2 linked regions of the Homo sapiens genome follow. The protein of the gene in region 2 purifies or fractionates together with the protein of the main gene of each other region. This does not show direct contact. Each region holds a gene or a part of one and is shown on either strand. Other genes may lie near its edges.

Region 1 (3,756 bases), on a different chromosome or scaffold from region 2:
ACCTATGAGCTTATTAGAAATACTCTCGCAGAATCCCAAACTTACTGAACCAGAATCTGCATTTTAAAAGGTCCCCAGGTGATCTGTGTGCTTTAAGTTTGAGAAGTACTGACACAGGGGTCTACTAGTTGATTTCTTGAAGTCCTCAGCTCAACCAAGCTGCAATCTACAGGGACTATTAAGAACTAGATAGACTTTCATAATTTACAACATTGTTTTAGTGGAGGAAATAAAATAAGAAAGACATTTTACAGAAGCCTTTAAAATAGGTAGGATCTATGAGGAAATAAAGTTTTCCTTGCAGATGTCATTAATAAAAAACATTTTGTGATATTTCATCCTTTCCAGGTGTGGCATCCTGCTCCCCAAACATTGTTCCCTCAAATCCTGTTTTTTCCTACGGCTTTGTGTCCTGACAAATACCCCTTTCTACTGTGGTTCTAGAAACAGATCAGAATAGGGGACTCTATTCTGATAAAGAAAAGCTGAGGATTATTAATTCATTTCATTTTTTTAATCCAGGGTCAGCCCTTTTAAACCTTCAACTGAATACAAAACATCTGAGAAGTTTTTCCACGTATGACTGGAGAGGCATTCTTTGCTAGCGGTCAAAGACAAGGACAAAGAACTACCCCCAAAACAGTTTGAATGAACTATGACCAGAAGCTGGTTTTGAATAAAGCTGATTTTCTATACCTCTAACTCTGTATTATCGACACGAAGAATGACAGAACCTTAACAGGAAATCTACATTCATTTTCTCCATTATCTCTGGTAACAATACAACACTGTAGTCAAGTGAACACAAAGCAAGCATAAATAAAAACACATTTTTCTCCAACTCCTATAAAATCAGTGCCTAGATGATAAAAAGTCAACTATACCTACTTGACTACAGACTTTACAAAATTAGTCCAAACTAATTAAATAACATCCCATATAGTCCCAAAATCTTCTTGCTCACTACAAATGAGCCAAATGAATCTCGAAACAAGACAGACGTTATATCACTCAAACAGATACTAAATGCTCCTCTCTGCAAAGTTTAACTATCCTAGACCATAAATTCAAACATATCATGTGTGTCCTGAAAGAAAAAATAAAGCTGATATGCCAAAATATTAGAGACCCGCATACAACTCCCAGACAAAATCTTCAAAATGTAGTGAGAAAAATCGTATCAGAAAGATTCACAATGATCCAACCACTCCAGAATCCTTAACTCCCAGAAAAGTTGCAAGGAATCTTATGCTGAAGGTTACCCATTTCTTAATTCCCAATCATACTGCAATAAATTTTCTATTCATATAATATAGGTGGAACTAGGGAACAAATGATGAATAATCAAAGGCAACCTCAGTTCTCCCTCTGATAAATATAAGGCTTTTTTTTAAATTAAGTACAAAAATATGACACACACAAAAATATAGAAAGGGCTGGGTGTGGTGGCTCACACTTGTAATCCCAGCACTTTGGGAGGCTGAGGCTATGGATCACTTGAGGTCAGGTGTTCGAGACCAGCCTGGCCAACATGGTGAAACCCCGTCTCTACCAAAAATACAAAAGTTAGTCAGGTGTGGTGGTGCATGCCTGTAATTCCAGCTACTCAGGAGGATGAGACAGGAGAATTGCTTGAACCTGGGGGACGGAGGTTGCAGTGAGCCGAGGTCACACCACTGCATTCCAGCCTGGACCACAGAGGGAGACTGTCTCAAAAAAAATAAAATTTTGTGTGTGTGTGTGTGTGTGTGTGTGTGTGTGTGTTTAACACCTATGCACTCACCATGGGGTAGGTTTAATCACAGAACATTACCAAAATACTTAAATGCCCCTGGTGTACTTCCACCAATCGTGCTCTCCACTCCCTTCACCATAAGGATGTCCCACTCTCTTAAATTTAGTGTTTATCTTACCTTTACGTGGCATACTTTTACCACGCATGTACATATCCCTAAACCAATGAGTCTCAATTGGGAGCAATTTTGCCCCCACTAGGGGACATCTGGCAATGTCTGGAGATATTGTGGGTTGCCACAAGGAGGTGGGGTGCTACTGCTGCTAATGGGTAGAGGCCAGGGATGCCTGCCTACAATGCACAGGACATTCCTATAACAAAAAATTATCCTATCCAATTCAAAATGTCAATAGTGCCAAGGCTGCAAAACCCTACCCTAAAATAGTTTTGTTCCGCACTTTAACAGACCGTAGGTTTTCTTTTGCAACTTACTTTATTTGCTTAACATTCTCTTCTATACAGTACTGCACTATACAAATTCATACAACTTATCCAGTCTCCTGCTAAGGTACATTTAAGTTTTTTCCAATTTTCTGTTTTTACATGCAACACTGCTGTGAACATTCTTTTTTAAATTTTATTTATCTCAAAACCATAGTAACTGCTGTGAACATTCTTATACAAGCTTCTATGTGCTCAAATAGAGATTCTCTCCAGGGCAGTGACTTTTAAAGTGTTATTCTTCAACCTCTAGGGAAATCCTCAAGACCCTTTGAGGGACTTCATGAAGTCAAAAGTATTTTCACAATAATATGTAAGATACAAGTTATCTTTTTCATACTGGCATCACATTGCTGGTACAAAAGCAACAGTTGGTAAAATTCCTGGTGACCTAGCCGAGTTAACGCTATAATTAATGAGACATACGAACACCATGTACCTCCTGGTACGATGCACTAACAAGGGCAAAACATCATTTCTATGATATTCTTGCCGAAAATACATAATCTGAATTTAATCATGAAAAAGCAGCAGAAACACCCAATTTGAGAGATAACAAGATTGTTTTTCATTACTTTGACACTGACTAAAGACTGAGGAACTCACCCAGATTGGAAGAGACCACTAAATGCAACGTGTGATCTTGGATGAGAAAAAGAATACTAGTAGGACACTAATAATAACCACTGCATATAATTTGAATAAATAAAATTTGAATAAGGTGTATAGATTAGTTAATACAGTATTACCGTATTAGTGTTAATTTTCTGGTTTTGATCATTGTACTTGCTAAGATATTAACAGCTGAAGAAGGTGGGTAAAGGGCAAAAGGCAACTCTTACTAGTTTTGTAATTTTTCTGGAAGACTACAATTGTTTCAAAAACAAAAGTTAATTTTTAAAATGTTAATATTATGCAAATAAATATCAAGTACTTAATAAATATTGAGTAATCTTATAGAATGTAATAAAATGTCAGTGAACACTGATTATTAAATATTTTGAAGAAAAAGGAAAACACTGAAAGTAGTATTATAGTCCTGGGGCAAAACAAGAGCCAGGAGCTTACAATTTTGCTCAGTTCTAAAAAAAAAAAAAAAAAAAAAACCCTGAAGAATTTAAAAGGTTGAAATTAAAATATATTTCAACAAGTATTTCATATGAAGGTTGGCTATCCTGCTCTTAAAATGTTTGTTAAAAGACCAAATGAACAAGATAAACCACTACATATAACAAATTAATGTATAAAATTATCTTATTAAACTAAGATTCTAAAACAGTTACTTCTGAAAAACATCTACGTTTATATTAAGATAATAAAACTATTAATATGATAGATACACCCCATACTACAAACATATAGATAACATTAATGTCCCTTCAAAAATCACCGTAGTAAAGAATCTGTTACACTTTACCCTAGATACTTAAATTTCCTCATAAAGCTACAATTACTGATACCAAGAATTCCTCCAAATAAGGGTTGTGGTCAGACTTTAGCTTGAGCTAGCACGACAACAA
Region 2 (3,756 bases):
CCACAAAGCCAGATGTAGCTTGAGGGGTAATAAACATGCTATGGCCTAGAGCAGGAAAAGGGAAAAAAGAATGAAGCAGTACATTTTCTTAATGAGGCTTTTTCAAACCACCATTTCATGTTGTAGCCAAAACAGATAAAATCACCAAAGGAACTTAGGATCTTGAAGAATATTCAGAGACTGTAGAAAGTGGTTTAAATAATAGATATTTAAGAAAAGATTCTAAAAAATATTTATTATGTTTATAAAATGGAAATTTCATGTTTATACTAAAAAAAGATTTACTATTACACATAAGTATTACACGAAGATGTATATAAACACATTGCATATGCAAAATGTATACACATAGACCACATGGCCAAATATGTGATATTATAAGGATAAGTTGATCTCACAGCAACATTTTGATGTGGAAAATTACCTCCACTCCAGAAATTATAAGTAAGGAAGATATACCCTGGCATTGCAAATAATAGCATAGGGATATGTCATTACACAACCTTGGATGAGATAACATATCAACCCGACATAAATACAGGCAACATCTATTCCTGAAAGGAATAAAAAAATGCTTACGAAGATACAGCAATGAGATACTGGGCTAATCGAATGACAAAAAAAATGTGATGTGTTCTTACATTGCTTACCCTAATTTTTAAAAAAGATTTGGAAAAAACAGAATAAAGATGACACTATCTGAAATAGTTGGTGTGCTTGAAATCCAGTTTTTAAAATTTGAAGGTAGGAATACTTCAACAAGATCATAAGCTTATACAACAGATCATAAGCTTATTTTTCTGTTTCAGATGCTTATCAAACTAGAAGTGAACATTTTGAACAGGTTTGTTTTCTAGGTGAAATCCTCTTTCCACATCCTACATAGCAAATACTCATGCACACCCACGCACATGAACACACACACACACACACACACACTTCTCTTTCTCTCCTTACAACTGTAAATCCATACCATGAGACTAAGGATGCTAACAACCAAAGAATGTGTTAAAGCAGCATTTTACCTCTTTGCTGATCAAACACAGAAGGGGTGCTGAAATCCATGGTAGCCTGTCTCATCATTTACCATCAGAATGGCAAAAAGCATCCAGGTCTCTAGAGAGGAGAAAACACCATCTCAAACCTTACTGTCAACATGACAGTCAGAGGCAGCATCGTTTGCCAAGACCTCTGTTTCAGGATTAAATGTGCATCAGAGCTGCAGGTTGTTGTCAAGGCAAGGTGATGAAAATAGGTAAATGCTATTCCTGTAAATACCTGCTAGGAAAAGAGTTACTCTATGGCCTCATTCATCAGCTGTACATGGGCATAATACACCCTCCACCCCCAAATCAATAAACACAATTACTCAAACTCCAAAAAGATAGTAAAATTGTATGGGCCACCTGCCTTGGATCTGGGCTGGAAAAACACAGCAGATCACGGAGCTTCAGCAGCTGGAATGTCGCTTTACACCAACAGAAATCTGAATGGGTGAGTGAGGATTCACAGGGCCAGACAGAGCATGTGCAAAGCTGCCAATGCAGTTCGCATTCGGCTGTGCTTTTGGCGGAGTGAGAACTGCATTTGGGTCATGTGAGCAGAGAGTGCCATCTCAATGGAATAGGATGTAAATATTGTAGCAGGAGGCTGCTGGCCATGTGCTGTGTGGAGTAATTATCCATGTTGGCAGTCTTCTTCACTCCCCTTTCAGCTCCGTTCTCCAATTGACAGGGAGGATGGGGAAAGGCGTCATTTGAAAGGTGACATTTCAAGGCTCGAGTGTCTGTGGTGATAAAATTAAAACAGTCTGCTGTCACAAGGGTGTTTATTGTAGCATTACATGTAGTAAAACCTGAAAAATCACCCGAATGTACCTCATTCAGGGAGCAGCTAAGTAAATGGTAGTAAATTCGTACTCTAGATTTAAAAATCTGACATAAATAAATCTGTGTATTTATCTGGTGACATGTCACTAATCTATTGTTAAATGAAATAAACAAGTTATATATTTCATTTGTTCGTGTTTTAATAAAACCGGAAACCACTCACTGTATACATTATTTTTATATATTCAGACGAACACTGAAAAAGATGTAGAAAGATACGTACTAAACTGCTAATATTGGTTCCCTCAGGCCACTGTGATTAGAGTAGGAGATTTCTAACTTGTTCTGTATCAATCTCTGTATTTTTGGCTTGTTAATAACCAGTATCTATTATCTTGTATTTGTAATAAAAATATGATATACTAAATTCAAACAAAGTTCTATATTCTAGGCACAACCAGATTTTTGGATAAGTCAAATAGCCATATAGTAGATGCTTGTTGAATCTAATAATAAACACCAGCTTCCTTTGCCCTTGGATAGGATGATTCTGAGGCATGGTGTTTTACTCCGTTTGCCATTTCCCTTTCAGGATTAAACTCCTTCAGGGTTAAACTCCACTGCCACCTGTGAGAATAGGTCTAATAACGTTCTTTTTATGGGCTGCTGTTCCCTCCCTGTATTACTTTCCCACGTTCCTACTGATATTTCCTGCACTTCTCAATAAGTTACTTGCATTGGAATCATTGTCTCAGGGTCTGCTTTTACGGAAACCCAAATTAAAATATTTCTCCACAAGAGGGTACATTTCATAAGGGCAGGGTCTTTGTCTACTCTTTCTTTGTCTGCTTTGTCCACTCCATGTCCTTACAGCCTAGCACAGAGAGGGGCACAAAGGAGGTGCTCAGTACATTTCAGTGCATGAGTGAAACTTCACTGAAGAACTTTCCTTGCTCAAGCTGACAACCTGCTCACTGACATTGTAACATTGGAACCCAATTAACCATCCTTCATGGGGTAAGAACTTTCTGACAAGAACTTCTGTAGTCCTTGAAATTTTCTAGTCTAAACAAGAAACCATGTACTTGAGGATTGGTTCTAGGGTTTCTGGAATTGGCTCTCAAATCTGATTAAATTTAAGGATTCTAATAGCTTTATTTCTAGGAGTAAAGAGAGCATTGATAGTCCATGGTGTGAAGTGGTAATAGAGATATGCAAAAAGCTGCACTGAATATTCCTAATTAATCACTGGACACAACAGGCAAGGAGTTGGGTGACTGTGTAGATGATACCCTCAAACATTTTTGGAAACTTAATGAATATGGCTGGTTGCTCCTAATGTCACTGGACAAAGTGATGAAAGAAAAGGATTAGCTCACGGATTCTAATTCCCAGCTCAGGTGCCATATAGATGACCTGGAGGTGTGTATGTGTACCCTGAAGGAGAGTCTTACCTCCTGTAGCCATGAGGCTGAGGATGCTGCAATCAAATGCAGGCTCTCATGCTGCAGCTGCCTGAATTACAATGCAAATTGAACTCCTGAATTACAGCGCAAGTCAAACTCCCAGCTTCACAGGATGTCTGCTGTTAAAGTGAGGACATTGATTGGGAAAGTAGAGGATACTGTAAATTGGATAGAGACATGTGAGAAGACCCTGATGAAGCTGGGGGACACTGAGCATCTAAACTCTGAGGAGTCTTCTTTGCCAGTGGAAGTGGACTCCCAATCCCTAGTAGAAGCAGCCTCCCCATCTCCAGTGGTAGCAGCCTTTTCACCTCAGTCTGAGAAGATTGACTCTGAATTGCCTGAGGAAACTGTATTGGCCTTCCTTGAGGCAGCTGCCGTGCACAACAATGCTGATTCTCTTCAGGAGCCACCACCATTGTTCCTCTGCTTCTAGACCTATAACTAGACTCAAGTCCCAG

What was found.
Region 1: the proteins of ANKRD55 (region 2) and MIB1 purify together in Homo sapiens (affinity purification with mass spectrometry; 3 studies listed by BioGRID and IntAct, with this or other methods). This does not show direct contact.

What each region holds. Positions count from the first base shown.
Region 1 is NC_000018.10:21,743,684-21,747,439, reverse strand, and holds part of MIB1 (E3 ubiquitin-protein ligase MIB1), read right to left. Parts: intron 1-3,756. UniProt on the Homo sapiens protein: E3 ubiquitin-protein ligase that mediates ubiquitination of Delta receptors, which act as ligands of Notch proteins.
Region 2 is NC_000005.10:56,231,831-56,235,586, forward strand, and holds the start of ANKRD55 (ankyrin repeat domain-containing protein 55), read right to left. Parts: upstream 1,501-3,756; 5' UTR 1,411-1,500; intron 1,117-1,410; 5' UTR 1,084-1,116; coding exon 1,026-1,083; intron 1-1,025.